7 linked regions of the Homo sapiens genome follow. The protein of the gene in region 1 purifies or fractionates together with the protein of each later gene. This does not show direct contact. Each region holds a gene or a part of one and is shown in the gene's direction. Other genes may lie near its edges.

Region 1 (3,500 bases):
TCTATGTGGAAATGTCTGAAGTCCGGGACTAAGTGATGGAGTCCCTAGATGATCCAAAGGCATCATTTTGATCTCCAGACCCAAACTCTCTCCCCATTAAACTGGCAACCAGAGCTGCTTTTTAAAAAGAACCAAAGGATGGGTAAAGAATCATTTCCCACCCCCCAGAAGAAGTAGAGTGCAAATGAGCACTGCACAGCCTAAAGGTAGACAGTAGGTTGACCCTGAAATGGCTTCAGGTAGGGGGCTTTTAACTCACCAGACTGGGCGTCTTTGCCTTTTGACGGAGTAGCTTAATTTTCCCAAACAGTGAATTGCAGGGGTCGGGCTATGCAGGGGTGGCTCCAGCCCAGGCCTCACTGCTGCCTAGTTAGCACCTACAGTTGTCTTGGGGCATGGGGCACCAGCTCAGGGTGCTAGGCCCAGGGTGCTCATTAGTGCCTGGTCACCCACATCCCCAGGTATCTGCAGGGCATCCCATGCCCAGCACAAAGCCTCTGTGCTTCTCTTCCTCTCCTTCATGGGAGGTGGTGCTGAATTTCCAAGGCATGGGGTGGGAGGGACACAGATCTTTGGAAAATAGAAGGTAAAGCAACCCATATCTGAGGCCTAGGTCAGGGATAGATATCTTATCACAGTGTCCTTGGCCCAGGACTCTAAAATGTTCACATACAGTCATGCACATTCACCACAAAATAGGTACACTGTTGTCACACACAAACATAAAACATGTAACGTGCAAAATACAGACAGACCAGGTTAACATAAAAGCAAACACAGAAGATATATGGTTATAATTGTATATAAAATGCACACTCTGCACAGATATAGAATTTACACAGAACATACACAAAAGACAAACATACACCACATACAAATATACAACCTGAAACTCAGATGCAAAATACATAAAAAACTACATGGACAAAATGCATATGCATATAAGATACACAAAGGCTACTTTACCATTGTTTCTACACATAAAATACACACAAACTCAGTATATACACACGATGCATTAACTTATAATAGGCATACAAGATACATAGCACACATGCCCAAAAATATCGCACAATACACATGAAATGCAGACATATACTCAGACCCATTGCCCTGCCCCCAGAGCTATGAATTAACAGGCACAAACAAAAGATCAGATGTAATCACCTTTGCCTGGCCTGTGTCTATATCCCCCAGGATCTTTCAAGGAATCTCTTTCTCTATTCTTTTCTCTCACTACCAGATTTCACTCCTGAGAAGTAACTCCTAGGTTTCAAGCAGGAGGATGGGCCACCACATCAAGCAGATATCTGACTAAGACCAGGAATTGCATGGGGTCTCTACCAATTCACCTTCCTCCCACCAGAAACCTGGGTGCAGGGTGTGAAAGTACCTGGGACAGCTGGTAGCCTAATATAGGCCTCCTTGCCATGACCCTTCCTTCCTTCCAGCAAATCCGCACAGACAACCCAATAGCCCAGGCTCCCCTTCTCCCAGCACCTGGGATCTCCAGATTCAGCCCTATTCTCTTAAAAGCAGTAATGGCTCAAGAAACTGCAGGATCTTGAGCCCAGGACCAGGGTAAAGATGTCCCCAACATTCTCTAAGCCCACAGATTTTATTGCCCTTCCATCCTTTGCAGCTTTGTTGGGGGCACGGTCAGGAAGTTGAGACCCTATAGAGACCTGTCTCTTAAAATGAGCCACCTTTACTTGCTTGTGGCATTTCACTTGCTCTTGTGCATAAGCCCAAAGGGGCCAACTCCTGATTCCCCTCTGGGTGTGTTCAATCCCGGGCACGCTCTTCCTTTTCCTCTTGTTGGGCTCCCCTGGATGCCCTGCCTCCCATCCAATTGCTATGCAACCCAGTTCAGCTTAAGTAAAAAGTGATTAAGAACATACATCTAAGGCTAAGCAAGCTAACACTTTTTAGAGGGCCTGACTTTATCCTATATTCTAAGGCCATATTTAAATACTTTCTAAGATTACCCACCATTTTGGATTACTCTTGGAGCTGGTTCTTCCCCTAAGTAGGACTAGCTGAGAGCTGAGTGCATTTTAGCAAAGGCTTCACCTACATCGGAAGTAAAGAGTTGCAGTCAGGCTTTGGATCAGGCCTCACTCCTGATTTCTGCTCCTGCAGCCATCCCGTTGTGTCTCACTCTCCCTTCCAGTGATGGTCGCAGCTCCCAGTCTCTACAGAAAAGGTAACAACAGTAGGGAGTGGACATATGGGTCCAAAACGTGTGCTTTGCTGGAAACTTGTGTTTCCAGGTCAAGGTACCATTCCTGTTGGCTTCATCAAGTGCCTCTGTGGATTCATTTTCAAGAAACTTGGAGTTTTCAGGAGACCGAAAAGGAATAGGCCCAGGAAAGGTGGAGAGATTGTCAGGAAGAGAGAGTGGCTGAGTGGGTCAAATTTCAGAGTAAACTTTTTAGGAGCCAACATTTAATTAAGAAAATAATTAAGGCTCTGTGCTTTCTGAAACTTCAGTAATATTTGACATGCTCTCTTCCTTCTTCTCTGCTTGCCTCTGTCCCTCTCACCTGTGTTTCTGAGGCTAGTGTTGGCATGTCACCATGAGGTTAGCCTTTTAAAAGGGGCCCCACGGGAGTGTGCCTCTAGATTGCGTTAGCCTAGTATGGAAAGGGCTCCCATGGAAGCTATGATGGCCTGAGACCCCAGCCTGGGTGTTCATGTTGCTGCTCCGTGTTGGGAGGGCCCAGGACTAGCTTGTTCTACCTATTCTTCCTGGATCTCTCACTATATTATAGTGAGGACTCTATCAGTATCAACCCATGTGGAGAGAGGACAGCACCCTCTGAAGCTCCTCAGGCTGGGGATTCAGCACTGCCCACAGTAGTAGAGTCACAGAGGCTGACTCCCCCCTAAGGAAACTATAGAACAGTGTGCAAATTGCATATGAAGGTGGCACCACTACCCCTATGTCAGGCAGGGGAGCACAGTGCTTTGACTTGTTTACTCAAGAGAGGGGATGATGGTGCTGAGCTCTGCTCCCCAGAGCTTTCCTGGGGCCCATTGTCATAATAACTTGTATGTGGGTGATGGCCGCCTCATCTGCGAGGGCTATAATATCCATGGTGCTCCTTGGTTGCACAATGGAGGTTCCCCTAGCCTTGGCAAGGTATCCATTGCCGGGTTTGAACTCATGACCTTAACCTCATTAACATCATCAGTCACCTGAGCCAACGCGCAGAGAGGGGGATGCTGGGAGCTCTCTCAGTAGCTATTGTGACCATCATCTATATCTTCAGACTTAGCCCTTGTTGAGTCCAACCCTGTTCCCCTATCAAAGCAACCAGCAGGGACAGATGGAGGTAGGGGCTCCCCTACATGCAGGAAGGTTCTCTTCCTCAAACTAACCTAGTTTACTTTTCCTTTTTTTCTGCTTCCCTTCCCACCAAATCTCAGCTTCATCTCTCATAGTTTGTGTTTGAATATTTTTAAAGAGGAAAAGTGCAATAAAATAAATAGTGACT
Region 2 (2,740 bases), on another chromosome or scaffold:
ACCTTACGTGTTCCCATAAGGTCTATTTAGGCCTTTATGCATGCCTGCCTCCCCAGTTACGTTGAGAACATCTTGAGTGAGGTTTAGGACCATGTCTTACTTGACTGTCTATCTCCAGCATCTAGCACTCTGGCCTGTTTAAGTGAAAACACTTTACCCCCTAAGTTAAATTCAGGATGACAGGATACAGGATCAGGGTCTTACTTGGAGTTCAAGTTTATTTATCTATTTATTTTTAAAGATGGAGTCTCACTGTATTGTCCAGGCTGAACTCCTGGGCAATAGCGATTCTCTCACCTCATCCTCCCGAGTACCTGGGCTTACAGGTGTGTGCCCCTGTAGCTCAAGTTGATGTTTTTTAAAATAAAAAAGTATATGGTAGTTTTCACATGTTTCTCACCACCTAAGTCTGATTTTAAGTTAAGTTTTTCTTTTCAGTAGCTATCGTGGTAACATTGGGTTAAAGGTGAGAAAGTCTACTTTTATTTGGAGAGATGGCTATATTAATAGGAGGTATCAAAACTGAATTCTATTGGTGTTTAAGGAGCTAGCCCTGTAATGTTTAATTCCCATCTCAAATTTGAGTTAATGTGCTTAGTAGTTTTAGAATGGCAGATTACTGTTTCTGCAAATGAAGATATTTTCTTTCTAAATATTTTGTGGTAATTAGCAAGCAGGAAATAAAACTAAAGATGACTGGTAAATATTGACCCAGGTGTCCAGGAACACCAGTATCTCTAACCCTTGTTTGTTCATTGTGGTTCACACTGTCCTGATTTTTCGGTTTCTGGTGCTGCCCTGCAGTGTGAATCAGCATTATCACCCAAATTGAGCACTGCTTAATCTATGTTTTCATCTTTTCGAAACCCAGGTAAGAACCTTGATGCTGTCCATGATATCACTGTGGCGTATCCTCACAACATTCCTCAATCAGAGAAGCACCTCCTCCAAGGAGACTTTCCCAGGGAAATCCACTTTCACGTCCACCGGTATCCAATAGACACCCTCCCCACATCCAAGGAGGACCTTCAACTCTGGTGCCACAAACGGTGGGAAGAGAAAGAAGAGAGGCTGCGTTCCTTCTATCAAGGGGAGAAGAATTTTTATTTTACCGGACAGAGTGTCATTCCACCTTGCAAGTCTGAACTCAGGGTCCTTGTGGTCAAATTGCTCTCTATACTGTATTGGACCCTGTTCAGCCCTGCAATGTGCCTACTCATATATTTGTACAGTCTTGTTAAGTGGTATTTTATAATCACCATTGTAATCTTTGTGCTGCAAGAGAGAATATTTGGTGGACTGGAGATCATAGAACTTGCATGTTACCGACTTTTACACAAACAGCCACATTTAAATTCAAAGAAAAATGAGTAAGATTATAAGGTTTGCCATGTGAAAACCTAGAGCATATTTTGGAAATGTTCTAAACCTTTCTAAGCTCAGATGCATTTTTGCATGACTATGTCGAATATTTCTTACTGCCATCATTATTTGTTAAAGATATTTTGCACTTAATTTTGTGGGAAAAATATTGCTACAATTTTTTTTAATCTCTGAATGTAATTTCGATACTGTGTACATAGCAGGGAGTGATCGGGGTGAAATAACTTGGGCCAGAATATTATTAAACAATCATCAGGCTTTTAGCGACAAGGAACACACACATTTTTCTTAAAGGCCCAATCCTAACAGACTCCCCGTACCAGAGGCAGATCTGGAACTCGTCAACAACAGCCCGGATCACATGCTGTTACTGGACTGCCCAGGTCACCTCATTGAGGTGAGCGCTGTCCCTCCAGGTACTCAGGCAGGTGGTGCCCAGGCTCCCTCCCTTGGCGTCCTTCTTCCTGCGCCAAACCCATCTCATCCTTAAGATCAGAAAATGGAACCCCCTTTGTCGTGAAACCGATCAAGCATTTTGACAGGAAGCCCTTCATTATTCATAACATTGTATGCTGACCAAGACGTCAGAAGACCACCTGTGCCCTTTTCTCTCGTGGAAGATAAAACCTGGACTCAGGGAGCAACCACAGGCTCTCCACTTTGAAACTTTAGTTTGAATTTTAAAAGATAGGAAGTAATACAGTTTAAGTTCCTTTCTCACACTCAGTATTGCATGCTTAGTGCTGGTTTTCTTACAACATTTTGGCAGGTGTAGCTTTTTCTGTTAAAAATGGTATACATGAAGTCACATACTTTTTTAAAGGAACACTCAGAACATTCTGTCATTCCAGTCAGAAACTGTCTTTTGAAATATTTCTTTACAACCTACCAAAAAAGGAAGGTTGTTTTTTCTACATGTGCTTGGGTATCTAACATCTACCATTAAAACAACAAATGGCTTGCAGACAGGGCAGTAATGGTTTATCCTAAATTACTCAACCCCTTGTAGCCTTGACAAATTTTACCTTAAAACCAAAATGAAACACAAAAATTAATCCTTAATAATGATAGCAAGTGATCTTTCTTTTTAGTTTTAGCCTTCCTTTTTCAATAGTAATATTTAAACCCACTTTTGACCAATTGTTTGCCCAAATATTCTTGTCATTTGGAGTCAGTGGAAAATCCAGCACACCAAGCACCAGTCTTCTTCTGAGGCAAAAGAAAAGTGTTGTCATTTTCACTCTGTTGGAGCTGCACACTTTTTTTTCTTTTTTTTTTTCTTTTTTTTTTTGTCGTGTAAGAAGGATGCTGGTCAGAGCTGCAGAAAATATGAGGCAATTAAAAGTCTTTAGCTGTT
Region 3 (3,500 bases), on another chromosome or scaffold:
ACAGATACGTAATTCACCTCTGGGACCTCAACCACGAAGGGACGTGGGAAGGAAAGGGGACGTATGTCTATTACACAGACTTTGTCATGGAGCTCACTCTCCTGTCCCTGGACCTCATGCACCATATTCACATGTTGGTAAGTTTCCTCAGAAGGAGCTCTAACAGAGGGCAAGCCTTTCAGAATCAGGAACAGTAATGGTTTCTTCATTAAAAAATGAAACTTTAGAAATAAGATGTGGATGGACTACTTAAAGACTAAAAATGAATGTGGCTGCAAACCCTCCCTCTTTTTGCCACTGGGTGTAAGGCAGTGCCATGGAACTGCTTTGGCTGGTGCCTAACTCAGGAGGTGTTTGCTGTCCTGGGAGACTTAGTTAACTCTGCTGACCAAGTCAATAGATTATTCTTTTAGCATGAAATTAAGGAGCTGCCTTTCCCCATAGTTTCTATGGCTTTAAATATTTAGCAGGTACTTTGTAGGTGGTAATGGGAATTCCTGCAGTGTTAGCTACTTCACAGATTTATACATTTTCCATCTTTGTAATTAAAAAAAGTCTTTACACTTAATTCCTACATTCCTACTACCATCATTGTTTACATTTTACTTTGGTATGTTAGACGTTACGGTGTCGTAGATCTGCTTCATTGGTTGGCCCTTCAGTGATCTAATAATGGTGAGAATTAAAATAGTTGGTGGGCAATTTATTTAAATTATAAGCCTAGCAAGTAGCATTTTAAAATTATTGGGCTAGACGTGGCACATTTCTAAGTCTACTTTTTGAAAGAAACTTTGAAAACATACTTTTTAAAGAAAGTATGTAATTCTTTTTTTTAAAAAAGAGCCTCGGCTGGACGCGGTGGCTCATGCCTGTAATCCCAGCTACTGGGGAGGCTGAGGCAGAGAATTGCTTGAACCTGGGAAATGGAGGTTGCAGTGAGCTGAGATCGCGCCACTGTACTCTATCCTGGGCGACAGGGTGACACTCCGTCCCAAAAAAAAAAAAAAAGCCTCCCTCCCCCCTCAAAAAGGGGACAAACAAATGGCCAAAGATAACTGTTAAGATTTTTTATCTTCTTTTTTTAAATTTTTTTTCCTCATGCTTGTATTTTTTGTATTTAACTGCTTCTTTTTATGTATTTTTTGTATTTATGTATTTTGTATTTTTATGTATTTTGTATTTAACTGATTCTTTTTATGTATTTGAGTACATACATTCATAAATTGAGATCATATTTTAGACATATAGTTCTGTTCTTTAAAAACTAATGTATTATGAACATTTTCCTGTGCTAACATCAGTTCTTCTAAGCCATTTTAATACTTTCAGGATAAAAATATCATCAGATAGCTGTACCATGATTTAATAAACCGCATCCCACAATGGGTTATTTAGATTATATTTGGTTGTTTGCTATTTCACATTTTACATATTTTTTATCATGTATTAGTTTGATAAAGATAGTTATATCTTGCTTTTTTCATTTATCTAGTACTATCTTCCCATAATTGACCTTCAGAACTGTTATATATACAAATATAATAGTAATATGTAGTTATATAGTATAATAAGTGAAATTAATGACTATATAATTTTACATTACATGAGTTTACAACCTAACTGTTCTTCTGGGCATTTTGTTCATTTTCATATTTTCTGTTTTATAATTGCATGGATAGACATCTTTTTGCATAAAGCTTTTCCATTTCTGATGAGTTTCTCAGGAAAGATGACTGGCATTGGAGCACCTAGGCTGACGAGGATGTGCATTGTTTAGAGTAATGAGATAAATCTGTGTATTTCCTTTCTGAAAGACATTGCAGTTCACCATCACCAACAGTGAAGAGCTTCCGCTGCATACTGCGCCTTCATCACTAGCAAGTTCACGTTCGCTTTTACCGTGTGTTTTATTCTCTTTCTCTCTAAGTTATTTGGCAACATCTGGTTATCCATGGCCAGCCTGGTCATCTTTATGCAGCTGCGTTACCTGTTTCATGAGGTGCAACGTCGAATTCGTCGGCACAAGAACTATCTACGTGTGGTTGGAAACATGGAGGCCAGGTAAGGAAGCACAAGTTGATGTTGCCTAAGTTTACTCATTTTAGTTTTTTAATAACAGCAGATCCCAGAGTATGTCAGAATGTATGTTTGTAAACTGCTAATAGAGTGGTGGAGAGGAAAGGCTCTGGAGTCAGACTGCCCGGGTGTGAATCCCCACTTAGGTGCTGTGTGATTTGGGGCAATTTACTTCACCTCTAAATTAGGGATGAAAACAGAACCTTCTGCCTGAACTATTGGGAGAATTTGGTGAGATAATTCATGTACTTAGAATGGTACTGGGCAGATAGTGCTCAGTATTAGGCTCTTATTTGTCATGATTTTATTGTCATTATTATCAAATAGACACTTCATTGGGCTTCTACCCTGTTCATTTCCTGAAAGTGGGTCTCAGTTCTTTGCACATGCATGTTTACACACACATACTTAACCTCATTGAAGGAGGCACTTTTTTGCCAAGCTGGGGCTAAGCCACGCCTGGAGGTGCAAGATTAATGGGTATCCTCTTTGCACCCAGGGGGACAGCTTGGATCTCTTCTTTGTGGCCAGGGACACAGATTGGATCTCTGGGGGCCTTACTCCTCTGATTTGTCCGGATATGGTCTCCGAGGTCTTCACTAACAGCAGCCATTATTATTATTATTATTATTATTTTGGAGATGGAGTCTCACTCACCCAGGCTGGAGTGCAGTGGCACAATCTCAGCTCACTGCAACCTCCGCCTCCCAGGTTGAAGTAAGTCTCCTGCCTCAGCCTCCTGAGTAGCTGGGATTGCAGGCGCCTGTCACCACGCCCGGCTAATTTTTGCATTTTTAGTAGAGACGGGGTTTCACCATGTTGGTTAGGCTGGTCTTGAACTCCTGACCTCATGATCCCCCTACCTCGGCCTCCGAAAGTGCTGGGATTACAGGTATAAGCCACCGCGCTCGGCCTAGCAACCATTATTTAGACAAAGTTCCTGTGCATAAGTTACTCACTTTTGAAAGGGCTTTGAAGGTAAATTATATTTTTGATTATCAAGAATGTTTTGCTGAACATGCTTTCTCTGTAACTGTGTTGTGATACAGGCGCAGTCTATCAAGTGGTGTTTAGTGTGCGTGTGGAACTGACTGAGGTTCCTGCTGGGCTTGTTTTGTTTCCACAGGTTTGCAGTTGCAACTCCAGAGGAGCTGGCTGTCAACAATGACGACTGTGCCATCTGTTGGGACTCCATGCAGGCTGCGCGGAAACTGCCCTGTGGACATCTTTTCCACAAGTAGGAGCTTTGTGAAGGGCCATGTGGGACAGGTGTTCTGTCCAGGGCGTGTGTGTGCTTTGTGTACCCAGGCTCGAGACTCATCCTAGTGGAGGAGTGGGGACATTACCTCAGCCTGGCCTTGCTGCTGGCACTGAGTGTTCTGGGAAGCTCTTGGGTATCCTTCTTTGTTCCTTAGCCTCTTCCC
Region 4 (3,500 bases), on another chromosome or scaffold:
CAAAGGATCCAGCGGATGACCAGAAGGATCCAAATGATGAGATAGCCTATCCTTGAAGGTGCTGATGGCACCTCCTGGAGGTGCTTTTTTGACACTCTTGCCCCAGGCAAGTATTCCCCTTGCACTTTGTATTTCTCTCCCACACTTAGGTATCCTTCTTGTCACAGTCTTCTCTGTCCAGGGCTGGACTGTCTTACTCTTCTTTCATGTCCAATATCTGGAACATTCATTCACTGAGTACTTCTTCCCACCCTGCTGATCCCCAGCCTGATTTCCTGGGTGGTCAGCGTTGGGTTTGAGATGTCGTCTGAAGTTGTAAGCAGAAATAATGTAGCTGCTGAAGGAATAATGCCTGGGGGTGGAGATCTGGTGAGCTTTTAGTGAGCATTAGGCAATGGAAGGTTCTAAAAGGCCAGCAGAATTCTTTGAAAAGTTCATTTAAAGCCCTTTGTCCCAAGGCTGTAGGCTGCAGAGTTCTTCCAGGTCCACCTCCTCCACTTTGTGACATTTCAGCTTGCGAGGAATTAAATTGTCGTTAAAACACATTTCAGTTCTAGGCATGAGTTCAAGGTAGCCTGGCGTTCCTCTCGCCCCTGGCCATGAGAACTTTGAAAGGGCTTTGGCAGCACTGGTTGGCCTGGCATGAGGAGCTCATAGCTTGAGGCTCATGCCCCACCTGTCCATAATGTTCTTATTTTCCCATCATGAGCATGGACTTGGGTTTGTTACATGTCCGATACCATTATGGTCAGTACTATGCAGATGACGAAGCAGCCCTGTCCCCCGTCTGACTCCCATGGCTGCTTCAAGGGCAGTGTGGTTATTTGCTGGGCAGTGGCATGGGGCTTGTGCATTTCTACTGTCACTACAGAGGGTTTAAAAAAAAGACATGGGCAGGTTAAGTGGAAGGGAACAGTCTCACACCACTACCTTTATTGCTTCTTGGTACTTGGGTTTTCAGGAAATTCCTATCAGCAGACATCAAAAACAGAGAATGAAGGGACGCAGTTGGCATGTGCCTGTGGTCCCAGCTACTTGGGAGGCTGAGGTGGGAGCATCGCTTGAGCCCAGGAGGTGAAGGCTGCAGTGAGTATGATCACGCCACTGCACTCCAGCCTGGGTAACAGCGCAACCCTGTGTGTAAAAATAATAATTTTTTAAAAAGATTAAAACCAAAAAAAAATTGTAAACAGAGTTCAACGTAACTTACAGATTAAAAACAGTAAAATATGACAGAAACTGAGAGGTAGTCATGATCAGATATGGCCTCCTTCGGGTGCCGACATCTGAACTGAGACCTGAATGATGAAAAGGGCCAACACTGCAAAAATTCAGGGAAGGAACATTTGGAACAGAGAGAACAGTCAAGTACAGAGGCTCCCGGATGTTCAGGGACAGTAAGCAATGAGAGAATGAGAAGACCAGAAAACTAGGGAGGGGCCAGATCATGTAGGGCCTTAGAAAGCCATGGTAAGGGTGTGGTAAGAAGTTTGGGTTTTATTCCAATAGCAATGGGGAGTCACAGGAGGGTTTCTGGTGGGTACAGCAATCTGCTTTGCACTTTAAAAGGCTTGCTCTGGCTGGAGGTGGAGAGGATGAATTATAGAGGGTAGGTATAATCACAGATATAACCTCAGTGAGGCGGCTGGAGCGAGTCCAGACCAGACCACGGAGGAGCAGGTGAAGCCAATGGATTTGGGATATGTTTTGGAGGCAGTGTAAGCAACGCTTGCTGAGGACCTGGATGTGGTGGTGAGAATCACCCCATCTCGAGCAACATTAACTGAGGAAAAAATTGAAAAAGGGGCGCCCTTGCTTGGGGGCTTCCTATTGTGGAACTGTTATGGAAAGGAGCCCCATCCATTGCTTCCTCCTTGAATGGCAAATGCCTTTATGATCCCTATAACTTGTCCCATTATGTTTAGACCCTTGGTGGTCAGAAGGGTTCTATTTAGGGCAGTGTCCCCTGCCCCTCCTTGTCCTCCAAAAATTTTGGGAGGCACTGACGTGGATGTCATGGGGTCAGCACAGGCATCAACATCCCCAGAGGGATGGAACCAAGCAGCCTATTGCCCAGGCATTCACTAACAGGCAGCCCATCCTCAGCCTCATAGCTGGCCGGGGAGAAGAAAGGCTATTTTGGGTCCCAGATCTTTTTTTTTTTTTTTGAGACAGAGTCTCGCTCTGTCACCCAGGCTGAAGTGCAATGGTGCGGTCTCAGCTCACTACAACCTCCGCCTCCCGAGTTCAAGAGATTCTCCTGCCTCAGCCTCCTGAGTAGCTGGGACTACAGGTGCGTACCACCAAGCCTGGCTAATTTTTGTGCTTTTAGTAGGGACGTGGTTTCACCATGTTGCCCAGGTTGGTCTCAAACTCCTGGGCTCATGCAGTCCGCCTACCTCAGCCTCCCAAAGTGCTGGGATTACAGGCATGAGCCACTGCACCCGGTCTCTGTTTACAAATTTATCACCAGCTTCATCCCCTAAGGTTATAAGCTCCATGAGGGTGGGAAGTCTGTATTGTTCACCTCTGTATCCTAAGCATCTAGAACATAGCCCGGCACACAGTAGGTGCTGAAGAACTTGAATCTGTTAATGTAGAAAGGATGTTTCATCTAGCTGAAGTGTCTTGTACAGAATAAACTCTCAATAAATGAACTGTGGACACATGGAAGGGTGAGCTAGAGCTCTGCTCAGGGGTTGAGTGCTCCTCTTGTGCCCTTGTGGTTGTCTGGTTACCTGAACTAATTGGAGTGCGATGCAGACATAGTCATGGAGTGAGACAGCAGAACTTTGCTGTCTTGTTTGTGAGCCCACATCAGGGGTTCTAGACTGGCTGGTTGACATGGTGGCCCCAGCCTGTCTCTTCAGCAGCTCGGCTTATAAAAAATAACCACCACCTACTGGGGAAAACTGCTGGAACCTTCAGATTGCCAAATTGTTCTTGGTGTCTTTTCCAGAAATATTTGCCAAACTCGAATTAGCCTTCAGGAGATTTGATAAAGCTCATGTTTAAGTCAAGAGACCAAAAGATTTTGATGGGGAGAATTAGGGGCTGGATATAGAGGGAATACTTAACCTGTATAGGGGCAGATATGGTTGTCCATGGAGATTCTGGTGTGAAAAAGTACGATGGCGGCCGGGCGCACTGCCTCACACCTGTAATCCCAGCACTCTGGGAGGCTGAGGTGGGTGGATCACCTGAGGTTGGGAGTTCAAGACCAGCCTGAACAACATGGAGAAACCCCATCTCTACTAAAAATACAAAATTAGCTGGGCGTGGAGGCACATGCCTGTAATCCTAGCTACTTGGGAGGCTGAGGCAGGAGAATCGCTTGAACCCAGGGAGGCAGAAGTTGTGGTAAGCCAAGATCGTGCCATTGCACTCCAGCCTGGGCAACAAGAGCGAGACTCCGTCTAAAAAATAAACAAAAAAGTACGATGGGAGAAAGGGGAGAGGGCAGTGGGGCCTGGAAACCTCATGACAAAGAGAATGAACAC
Region 5 (3,500 bases), on another chromosome or scaffold:
GTGAGGTAAGGTGACTTGGTTGTTGGCAGTCACATGCCAGTGTCAATTTTCTTCTCATTGATGTCTATAAACTGTCAATATTCATGAATCCAAATTTCAGTATGTACCCAACCAAATGGTAAATGAAATTTACTGTAGAATTGTTGCTTCTCTGCAGCTAGTACAAACTGTTTTGGAGATTCTGTGTTGGCACAGAGCAGAGAGGAAAAGAACTTTAGGGAAAATAGTGTGAGTCTTAAAGAGGGCACATAAATGGCCTTAAAATGAATAAAACATTAAGATGAATTCGTTAACTAAAATAATAAAGATGTTGCCAGCCATATGGAAAAATATGTTATTCTTTGAAAAATTGACATTTTAATTACGTTTTTTTAAATGTCCGATTCATATAATGATCAGAAGTTAACTAAGAATACTCTATTTCGAAAGTTTTATGGAGCACGCAAAGTGTCACTTTCTAGTTTGGAAAGAAAGGGATTTTGTTGTTGCTAGTTTAGGAATATGCTGGGTTTAATTATTACAGGATAATTAAAGAACTAAAGCTAAGAATGTATGTGTGGTTTTTGTTTTTTTTTTTTTAACCTTTTACTAACTCTTAATGGATATGTAACATTTGCATTAGGATCTTGGATAGAGTTACTTAATAGTGGATCAGACAACTTTCCAGATAGGGAATCAAAGTGAGACTCGCTGTTTTGAGACAAACTAGTTCAGACTGTATATAAAATCATTTGTTTTATATAAAGATGCATTTCAGGTTCTTTAGTGGTAATAAAATAGTTACAGTATAATATGTTTTCAGGCAAAAAGTCTGTCAGAATGGTCTTTAGCTGCTTCATTGCCCACAGGTTAATTGGTATAAAAACTTCCTTGACACCACTTTTAAATATATTTACATACACACGTGTGTATGTGTATGTGTGTGTGTATGTGGGTATATTTGTGTATATACATGTTTGTACATACATTATGTGTGTGTGTATATACGCTTTGTCTTATCTGTAATGGCCAGTGTTTGAAGAAGAAAGAAACTAGACCCTATAGATTAAAATCTTTGAGGATTTTTCAAAGCTTTCCATGGGGGAGCATTTCTTACACCCCACGTAAGGAAATATTGGTCTGGGTATTTCATGGACTATTGTGTTCACTCGTTAGCTGAAATGATCAGCTATCCTAAGACTAAATACTAGCCTAATCATTAGCTTTTTTAATTTCTTAAATTCCTGAGATTGGGATTTCATGTACTAGTAGAATTGTATTTTACAGGCCCAGAGCAATGGCTCACGCCTGTAATCCCAGCACTTTGGGAGGTCGAGGCAGGTGGACCACGAGGTCAGGAGTTCAAGACCAGCCTGGCCAACGTAGTGAAACCTCGTCTTAACTAGAAATACAAAAATGAGCCAGGCATGGCGGCTCACGCCTGTAATCCCAGCTACTCTGGAGGCTGAGGCAGGAGAATCGCTTGAACGCGGGAGGCTGAGGTTGTAGTGAGCTGAGATCACACCATTGCACTCCAGCCCAGGTGACACAGTGCAAGACTCGGTCTCAAAAATAAAAACTGTATTTTACGCAGTGACAATTCGGTAATATAGTCCATGATTTAATGAAACAGTAGTGTGGGATTGGATTTTTGATATTTGTTTTGTTTTAAAATTCTAGAAGGAGTTAGCTTTTGCAGCCCGTTCTGATGAATTTATTGTCTTTACTGCAGGAATGTATTTTGTAATTTTTTTAGATATTACAAAGTATGAGGAAAGCTTACAAGTCTACAGAAGTGCTGTGTGTTCTCATCAGTAGATTTTAGTTGTTAAAATTAATTACTTTGAACTGAGATTGCACCACTGCACTCCAGCCTGGGTGACAGAATGAGACTCCATCTCAAAAAATAAATAATAAATAAAATAAAATTAATTACTTTGAATAGGTAATATTGCCACAGTTTAAAATTCAGAAGTCCCCTTCGTACATCAGCCTCCAGCTACTAAATTCTTCTACCTGGAATCTAATAACTGTTATTAGTTTCTCATTTATTACCTTTTAATAAAAGATGAATTTGGGTTCTGGAAATAATCTTGACATGGGAGTTTTTGAAAATAGATGTATTTTTTTTCTAGTTATTGGAAAAGTCACAGGACTGTTTTGAAGTGCTGAAAATCTAATTGTGATATTTATAGTTCAAGAAATTTAATGAATGCATTAATAGATTTTGCTATTCATTTCTACTCTGAGCTAATCTTGTAGAATAAAAACCTAGTCTCTCTAATCCCATATTTGTGGGATAAAAATCTTATCTATGACACACATATATATGTACCCACATATATATACATATATATGTATATATGTACACACGTGTGTATATATATACATGTACACACGTGTGTACATATATACATATATATGTATATATATGTACACACGTGTGTATATATATACATATATATGTGTATATATGTACACACGTGTGTATATATATACATAAATATATATATCTCCCCACCGGCAATATTTTATGTAATATTATACGTACTGAATGATTTCAATTTTTAAAAACCCTGCAATTCCATAAATACGTGTATATATATACATATATATGTGTGTATATATACGTGTATATATATACACGTGTGTGTGTATACGTGTATATATATACACGTGTGTGTATACGTGTATATATATACACGTGTGTGTATACGTGTATATATATACACGTGTGTGTATACGTGTATATATATACACGTGTGTGTATACGTGTATATATATACACGTGTGTGTATACGTGTATATATATACACGTGTGTGTATACGTGTGTGTATACGTGTGTATATACGTACGTGTGTGTATACGTGTGTATATACGTACGTGTGTGTATACGTGTGTATATACGTGTGTATACGTGTGTATATACGTATATATGTGTGTATACGTGTGTATATATACGTGTATATACTTTTTTCTCGACACTGTACTGATGAGGAATGAGCTGTATATTTATAATATGCAGCAGCCAGGAGACACTCCTTGCTGTTCTAGTCAGGAATGCTAGTTATACTTTCTGTGGCATTGTTCTAGCATGTGATATTTTAACTTCATGGATCCTGTGCAGTCTTAATAGAGGAGTTCTGCACAAGAAACATGATTTTTCCTGTTTTAGGAAGTAAGTACTGTGGGGTACTACTCTGTCATCTGGTGGCTAACCCTTCCAAATGTATCCCATGAGAGGAGACAGTGCCACTCAACCTTTTGGAGGCAGGAAGTATGGGAGCTGTAAAAAGAGCCTATTTTCTTAAAGCTTGGAACTTACTTGAGGGATAGAAACAGAGTAGTGTTGCTATTAGTGTTAAAGTTGTGCTGATGAGGCCTAAGAGCTCTGCTGATAAGGCCTAAGAGCTCTTATCCTGCTTTTCTCCCTTTACTGGAAATTCTGACAAACCCAAGAGAAGGCCAACCAGCTTGGAGACCTACTAGGTAAGGCAGGAACCACAAGTAGTTCCTGATC
Region 6 (3,500 bases), on another chromosome or scaffold:
CAGCCGCACACTGGGGCCCGAGGTCGGGGGCAGCATTGGGCTCATGTTCTACCTGGCTAACGTCTGTGGCTGTGCCGTCTCCCTCCTGGGGCTGGTGGAGTCTGTGCTTGATGTCTTCGGGGCCGGTCTGTGCTCTGTCCGATCTGGGCAGTGCTGCGGGTTTACAGGGTCTGGGAGTGTGGGATCATGAGGGAGAAGGTCCTCTCCAGCAGAGGGGCAGACTGAGCCATTACCTTGGCTTTCTGGAGCTTCTGCTGTGTGGCCAGCATCGTGCAGGAGATATGGACATCCCTGAGATTGTCCTTGCCTGCAGGGAGCTAACCATCTAATCGGAGAGACCAGGCTAAGATTCTTAAAACTGACAGAGACCACCAGGGAGAGCTAAGATGCTAGGATGGAGCTAAGAGGGAAGTGGGGAAGGTGGACTCTCTGATAGCAGGTGGGCAGAGGAGGGCTTGTCTTGCTTTGGGTCACAGTTGGGGCTGGGTCCCTTCTTATTTATTTATTTATTTTGAGATGGAGTCTTGCTTTGTTGCCCAGGCTGGAGTACAGTGGTGTGATCTCCGCTCACTGCAACCTTTGCCTCCCGGGTTCAAGCAATTCTCCTGCCTTAGCCTCTTGAGTAGCTGGGATTACAGGCACTCACCACCACGCCTGGCTAATGTTTGTATTTTTAGTAGAGACGGGGTTTCACCATGTTGGCCAGGCTGGTCTTGAACTCCTGACCTCAAGTGATCCACCTGCCTCAGCTTCCCAAAGTGTTGGGATTACAGGCGTGAGCCCCGGCGCCCTGCCCCTTCTTCTTTTTTTTTTTTTTCTTGAGAGAAGGTCTCACTCTGTCACCAAGGCTGGAGTGCAGTGGTACCATCTCGGCTCAATGCAACTTCTGCCTCCCGGGCTCATGCGATTCTCCCACCTCAGCCTCCCAGTAGCTGGACTACAGGCATGCCTCCCCACACCTGGCTAATTTTGCAGTTTTTGTGGAGCTGGGGTTTCACAATGTTGCCCAGGTTAGTTTTAAACTCCTGGACTCAAGCAATCCTCCCACCTCGGCCTCCCAAAGTGCTGGAATTATAGATGTGAGCCGCCCACCATGCCCGGCTGGTGGGGTGCCTTAGGATCGGGCCTTCTAACTCTGTCCCTACCTCTCTCCAGATGCCACAGGGCCCAGTGGGCTCCGGGTCCTGCCCCAGGGCTACGGCTGGAACCTGCTGTATGGCTCCCTGCTGCTGGGCCTTGTGGGTGGGGTCTGCACCCTGGGAGCCGGCCTCTATGCCCGGGCCTCATTCCTCACATTCCTGCTGGTCTCTGGCTCCCTGGCCTCTGTGCTCATCAGTTTTGTGGCTGTGGGGCCGAGGGACATCCGCTTGACTCCTAGGCCTGGCCCCAATGGCTCCTCCCTGCCGCCCCGGTTTGGCCACTTCACCGGCTTCAACAGCAGTACCCTGAAGGACAACTTGGGCGGTGAGCTGGGTGCTGCCGTGGCAGGGATCTCGGGGTGAGGGGTGGGCAGACGTCGGGCCGGGCCCGTAAAACCTCTGGATGAGCACAGGTGTCAGAGGGAATGGAGGGCAGGAGGTCTGGACTGCAGAGCAGTGCAATTTAATTCAAGCCTGTCTAGCGTGTGCTTGGCCGGCAGGGCAGGAGGAAGCCCACAAAACAGTCCCTGCTTTAGAGGAACTTGTGTTCTAGCTGAGGAGAGACATGCATTCAGGAATCAGTTAAATAGCACAGAATGGCCCAGCATGACTTAAACAGATCAGGATCACCCAGGAGTGGAGAGAAGGGAGGCCTGACTATGGGCTGGGGAGGGCAGGAGCCGGGGAGCTGGAGGTGGCCTGAGATAGACAGGTGGGGGATTCAGCCAGGAGCTGGGAGCAGAGAGGGAAGGCATCTCAGGAAAGAGCTTGAGACCAGGTGCGGTGGCTCACGCCTGTAATCCCAGCATTCTGGGAGGCCGAGGCAGGAGGATCACCTGAGGTCAGGAGTTTGAGACCAGTCTGGCCAACATGGTGAAACCCTCTCCCCGTCTCTACTAAAAACACGAAAATTAGCTGGGCACGCTGGCTTGCACCTGTAGTGCCAGACACTCGGGAAGCTGAGGGAGAACTGATTGAACCCGGGAGGAGGAGCCGAGATTGTGCCATTCAGTGAGCCGAGATTGCACCATTGCACTCCAGCCTGGGAGACAGTGAGGTTCCCTCTCCAAAAAACAAACAAACAAAAAAAACACCATAAAATAAAAATACAAAAATTAGCCAGGGGTGGTGGTGCGCACCTGTAGTCCCAGCTACTCAGGAGGCTGAGGCATGAGAATCTCTTGAACCCGGGAGGCAGAGGCTGCAGTGAGCTAAGATCGCCACCACTGCCCTCCAGCCTGGGCTTCAGAACGAGACTCCGTCTCAAAAAAATAAATAGGCTGGGTGCGGTGGCTCCCGCCTGTAATCCCAGGACTTTCGGAGGTCGAGGCGGGTGGATCACCTGAGTCCAGGAGTTCGAGATCAGCCTGGCCAACATGGTGAAACCCCATCTCTACTAAAAATACAAAAATTAGCCAGGCGTGGTGGCGGGCACCTGTAATCCCAGCTACCTGAGAGGCTGAGACAGGGGAATTGCTTGAACCTGGGAGGCAGAAGTTGCAGTGAGCCGAGATCGCACCACTGCACTCTCGCCTGGGTGACACAGCGAGACTCCATCTCAAAATAAATAAATAAATAAAATTAAAAAGTTAGATGGGCATGGTGGTGCACACCTGTAGTCCCAGCTACTTGGCAGACTGAGGCAGGAGGATCGCTCTAGCCCAGGAGGTAGAGGTTGCAGTGAGCTACGATGGTGCCACTGCACTCCAGCCTGGATGACAGAGCCAGACCCTGTCTCTAAAAAATAAATAAATAAATAAAAGAGCGTGGATTAGGGTCTGGAGGGAGGAATATCGGAGCACTGGGGGGACGTGGCAATGTGTCTGGCTGACCCAGGGCCAGTGCAGGAACAGGCTGGGGTCTTAGTGAGGGCAGTGCAGGGGAGGCAAGAGGACCGTGGGAATGTGTGGAGAGGGTGGCTAAGAGGCCTGGATCCCTGAGACGGATGCTGATGCACTCTCCTCCCTGGGAGGATCCTCCTAGCTGGCTATGCTGAGGACTACACCACGGGAGCCGTGATGAATTTTGCCAGCGTCTTTGCTGTCCTCTTTAACGGCTGTACAGGCATCATGGCTGGGGCCAACATGTCAGGTGAGAGTCCCTGCCTGCTGCCTCCTGGGGGTTTGGGGCTGCCACCGTGAGGGACCCAGGGGGATGGCTGGAGGGCTGACCTCACTCCCTCTGCTCCCCCTCTCCAGGGGAGCTGAAGGACCCCAGCCGGGCGATCCCTCTGGGCACGATCGTCGCCGTCGCCTACACCTTCTTCGTCTATGTCCTGCTTTTCTTTCTCTCCAGCTTCACTTGTGACAGGTGTCTGGGGAGGGATGGGGGTGGAGTGTCGAACAAGATTGGTGCACCTGG
Region 7 (3,500 bases), on another chromosome or scaffold:
TTTCATTTCCTGTCCCAGTCCCCTGTGTTATTTTCTTTATAACACTTTACATTTTATAATGACTTACTTGTTTACCCCTCCATCTCTCACTCAACTTGAAACTCCCTGAGTCCAGGAAATTTGTGTCTGTTTTACTCACAGAAGAATCCAGCAACCAGCACAGTGACTGGCAAACATTAAGCTTTTAATACTTGTGTGTTGTATAATTAAATGCATGTGCAGGAAGAGTCACAACTTCCACTCCATCTTCACTGCTTTTGTCAAGGACTCCCACGTGCCCAAGCCACCTGTCAGCATTCTGTGCCTGTCTTACTTGATGGCAGAGACAGAGTTAAGGGAGAGGCCAGGTCCAGTTTATTCTCTGTTAACCTCTTCTGTGTTTATCAGCATGTTTGATTCACCACAGTATCTCCAGCACCCAGAACAGCAGACACCTAGTAGATACTGTTGATTGGCTGAACTCCCAGCTCTGAATGACACAGGATGTGAAGGGAAAGGGAGCTGGTGCAGTGATGGAGACATCTAAAGACAGAATCTATCTGGGGCAGAGATTCATATCATTGTTTTCAACTTCTGGAACTGTTTATCATAGGCACGCATCTCCATTTGTATAATGAAAGAGAAGAAAAGCGGTTCCTTACACTTTTTTAATCATATGTTTTATAAATGGAGAATGAACTTCATAGTTTTAGTTGCTAGGCAATAATTTGATATTCTAGAGTCTTTCTCCAAGAAAAAGAAAACTATTTTGCTTATAAGCCAGCTTTTACCTCTGTTGGACACACAATGGTGAATGAAAGCATTTCCATCTTCCAAAAAAGAAATCAAGGGCAATTAAAAATAGTTTACAGAAGGACGGGAGCAGTGGCTCACGCCTGTAATCCCAGTACTTTGGGAGGCCGAGGTGGGAGGATCACGAGGTCAGGAGATCGAGACCATCCTGGCTAACACGGTGAAACCCTGTCTCTACCAAAAATACAAAAAGTTAGCCGGGTGTGGTGGCGGGCACCTGTAGTCCCAGCTACTCGGGAGGCTGAGGCAGGAGAATGGCATGAACCCGGGAGGCGGAGCCTGCAGGGAGCCGAGATCTTGCCACTGCACTCCAGCCTGGGCCAAAGGGCAAGACTCCATCTCAAAAAAAAAACAACAACAACAAAAAAGTTTACACCAGCCAAACAAGCAAAGAAGCTAAGACCCTGACTCTGGCCATTTCATTCCAAATCCTGTTCCGTATCAATCTAGACAGTGCCTGCTCATGAGAAATAATAATAATAATAAAAAAATACATCTACTGCAACTCTACTTTGAGACAAGGATTTGGTTCTTCTGAAGGGCATTTAACTGACTGGTATTACTGAGAAATAAAAAATCCCAAGGCCTGTGACCCTTTGAAACTGTCGAGTGACCTGGCATCCTGTTAAACACTGACCTGCTTTGTAGAAGAAATCCAACCCTGTCTGTGAATTTTAACTAAGTTAAACTTGAGGGTCTCCATGCTCTCTTGTTCTGCAGCACATCTGGCTGGTGCCAAGAGGATTTGCTCAGCTCCATCCTCTGGGGAAGGGATTCATTTTCCTGTTTAGGAAATGTGATGTCGAGCTCCATGAGGCTGATGAGCACGCTGGGTGGGACCACAAACAGGCCCCAGTGAAATCAATTATGTGGGTGTCTTAGGACAAAATTTGGTTCAAAGTGATCAAGGACAGGGTGTGTCATTGCAAGCTGTGAGCCACGGTGACTTCGGCTGTTTGTTCAGCATTTAATATGTTTATCTTTCTGCTAAACACATTGTTGTTGAGTCACCTCTCTTAGAGACCCATTCTGTGTGAGGTCCAGCTCTGCAAGTCCAATATACAAAGACAAGCCTTTCACCTTCAATGACCTTACATTCTACAAAGTTGAAACAAATGCCTTCTCTTACTTCTCACTTTAGTCGGGAAGGTACTCAGGCTCTTAAAAAGGTAAATCATGTATTCTTTATTAGGCCAGGAATCATCAAGCAATAAAAGTAAAGGAAGAACTTAAAATGGTCATTATATTTTCAATATCATTTAGTGTTGTTGCTGCAAATGGAAAATGGAATGTCAGTTTGCCCAAAGGTACCATCAGCCTTCAAACCATCAATATTTCCTGTCAGACTATAATGTTGTCACCAATATTAGGCTAATTTTATTAATCAAACAAACAATTGCATTAAGCTTCTAAGCTTTGGCTAGAGGAGTAAAAATCGCATAACTTTGAAAAGTAGACAAATTCATGAAATGCTGTCTGTTTGACCTTCCACAGAAATTGTCCGAGCCATGACACATGTGATAAACCAAGGCATGGCGATGTACTGGGGCACCTCGAGATGGAGTGCTATGGAGATCATGGTAATTTAACTTCTATTTTTAAATGGCTATTGAGTACCTTATTATTGCTTTTCAGATGCCATGCATAAATTGCAAGATCTTTTGCAAACTTTTCTCACAATCACTATGGCACTGGAATTCTAGAATCAATTCCATCATTACAGAGATGGATATTGGAGCCGGAGCTCATCCGTTCAGAATACAACAGAGAATACAGTGTTCTTTGGTGGCAAGAGGGTAAAGTGAATTTCACAGCTAATGAGATATATTAACAGAGTATTCTAGTTTTCTTATAAAAAACTGTATTAACTATACTGTTTATACCAAGCTAATTACAGATACTTTTATATGTTAGTCTAAGTCTTATTTCTTTAGGAACTTAAAAATAGTTAAACTACATTTTCTTTATCGTAGTGTACAATTCACACCTTGACTAATTTGCTCTGGACTTAACTCAATCCAAACCCTCCCAAAGAATTAATAAGGGTTTCCTACCTTTCATATTGCTCTTAGTGAAATCGGTGGTGACAAATTTGCTTATTATTTGGCATCCTACATGTTTCTTGGTTTGTACTGATTTCACCAAAGTAAACATTTCTCATGCATACAAATTACAGCGAAGCCTTATTTCTCATCAGTATAAATTTGGTTGTAATCTCATTCCTCCCTAGGAAGCCTATTCTGTAGCAAGACAGTTCAATATGATCCCACCGGTCTGTGAACAAGCTGAGTACCATCTTTTCCAGAGAGAGAAAGTGGAGGTCCAGCTGCCAGAGCTCTACCACAAAATAGGTAATCTTCAAAATAAAAGCTACTGAGTATTTTTAACAAGAGAAAGATCACTGATTCGGGGAAAAAATAAAAACAGTGTTATTGAAATGCTTTCCTAAATGTCCCTAATTAACATAGACATTGTAAGAACCATGCATTCCAGAGATTGTAGCAGAATCAAAATGTAGCAGAATCTGCATTTAGTCTACAGGGTATCACTGATGAAAGCCAAGCAGAGTTGTAAATTGTGACTGGTATTTCAGCTGTACTCAGCAGGTGTTCAAAAAAAAAATGCATACTGAATAAAAGGAACAACCAATGAATAAGTTCATTTTTCATTGGTGCTTGCTCGAGTAAACAATGACTACCTTTCAAAAA

What was found.
Region 2: the proteins of KCNA2 (region 1) and LCLAT1 purify together in Homo sapiens (co-immunoprecipitation; 2 studies listed by BioGRID and IntAct, with this or other methods). This does not show direct contact.
Region 3: the proteins of KCNA2 (region 1) and AMFR purify together in Homo sapiens (co-immunoprecipitation; 2 studies listed by BioGRID and IntAct, with this or other methods). This does not show direct contact.
Region 4: the proteins of KCNA2 (region 1) and FADS1 purify together in Homo sapiens (co-immunoprecipitation; 2 studies listed by BioGRID and IntAct, with this or other methods). This does not show direct contact.
Region 5: the proteins of KCNA2 (region 1) and FBXO11 purify together in Homo sapiens (co-immunoprecipitation; 2 studies listed by BioGRID and IntAct, with this or other methods). This does not show direct contact.
Region 6: the proteins of KCNA2 (region 1) and SLC12A9 purify together in Homo sapiens (co-immunoprecipitation; 2 studies listed by BioGRID and IntAct, with this or other methods). This does not show direct contact.
Region 7: the proteins of KCNA2 (region 1) and KCNAB1 purify together in Homo sapiens (affinity purification with western blotting; 2 studies listed by BioGRID and IntAct, with this or other methods). This does not show direct contact.

The regions. Positions count from the first base shown.
Region 1 is NC_000001.11:110,597,783-110,601,282, reverse strand, and holds part of KCNA2 (potassium voltage-gated channel subfamily A member 2), read left to right. Parts: 3' UTR 1-3,500. UniProt on the Homo sapiens protein: Voltage-gated potassium channel that mediates transmembrane potassium transport in excitable membranes, primarily in the brain and the central nervous system, but also in the cardiovascular system.
Region 2 is NC_000002.12:30,639,246-30,641,985, forward strand, and holds part of LCLAT1 (lysocardiolipin acyltransferase 1), read left to right. Parts: intron 1-871; coding exon 872-1,374; 3' UTR 1,375-2,740. UniProt on the Homo sapiens protein: Exhibits acyl-CoA:lysocardiolipin acyltransferase (ALCAT) activity; catalyzes the reacylation of lyso-cardiolipin to cardiolipin (CL), a key step in CL remodeling.
Region 3 is NC_000016.10:56,401,546-56,405,045, reverse strand, and holds part of AMFR (E3 ubiquitin-protein ligase AMFR), read left to right. Parts: intron 1-4; coding exon 5-137; intron 138-1,927; coding exon 1,928-2,061; intron 2,062-3,202; coding exon 3,203-3,313; intron 3,314-3,500. UniProt on the Homo sapiens protein: E3 ubiquitin-protein ligase that mediates the polyubiquitination of lysine and cysteine residues on target proteins, such as CD3D, CYP3A4, CFTR, INSIG1, SOAT2/ACAT2 and APOB for proteasomal degradation.
Region 4 is NC_000011.10:61,807,004-61,810,503, reverse strand, and holds part of FADS1 (acyl-CoA (8-3)-desaturase), read left to right. Parts: intron 1-3,500.
Region 5 is NC_000002.12:47,899,999-47,903,498, reverse strand, and holds part of FBXO11 (F-box only protein 11), read left to right. Parts: intron 1-3,500. UniProt on the Homo sapiens protein: Substrate recognition component of a SCF (SKP1-CUL1-F-box protein) E3 ubiquitin-protein ligase complex which mediates the ubiquitination and subsequent proteasomal degradation of target proteins, such as DTL/CDT2, BCL6, SNAI1 and PRDM1/BLIMP1.
Region 6 is NC_000007.14:100,855,713-100,859,212, forward strand, and holds part of SLC12A9 (solute carrier family 12 member 9), read left to right. Parts: coding exon 1-125; intron 126-1,155; coding exon 1,156-1,464; intron 1,465-3,122; coding exon 3,123-3,230; intron 3,231-3,337; coding exon 3,338-3,449; intron 3,450-3,500. UniProt on the Homo sapiens protein: May be an inhibitor of SLC12A1. Seems to correspond to a subunit of a multimeric transport system and thus, additional subunits may be required for its function. May play a role in lysosomal ion flux and osmoregulation.
Region 7 is NC_000003.12:156,512,078-156,515,577, forward strand, and holds part of KCNAB1 (voltage-gated potassium channel subunit beta-1), read left to right. Parts: intron 1-2,286; coding exon 2,287-2,372; intron 2,373-3,022; coding exon 3,023-3,143; intron 3,144-3,500. UniProt on the Homo sapiens protein: Regulatory subunit of the voltage-gated potassium (Kv) Shaker channels composed of pore-forming and potassium-conducting alpha subunits and of regulatory beta subunits.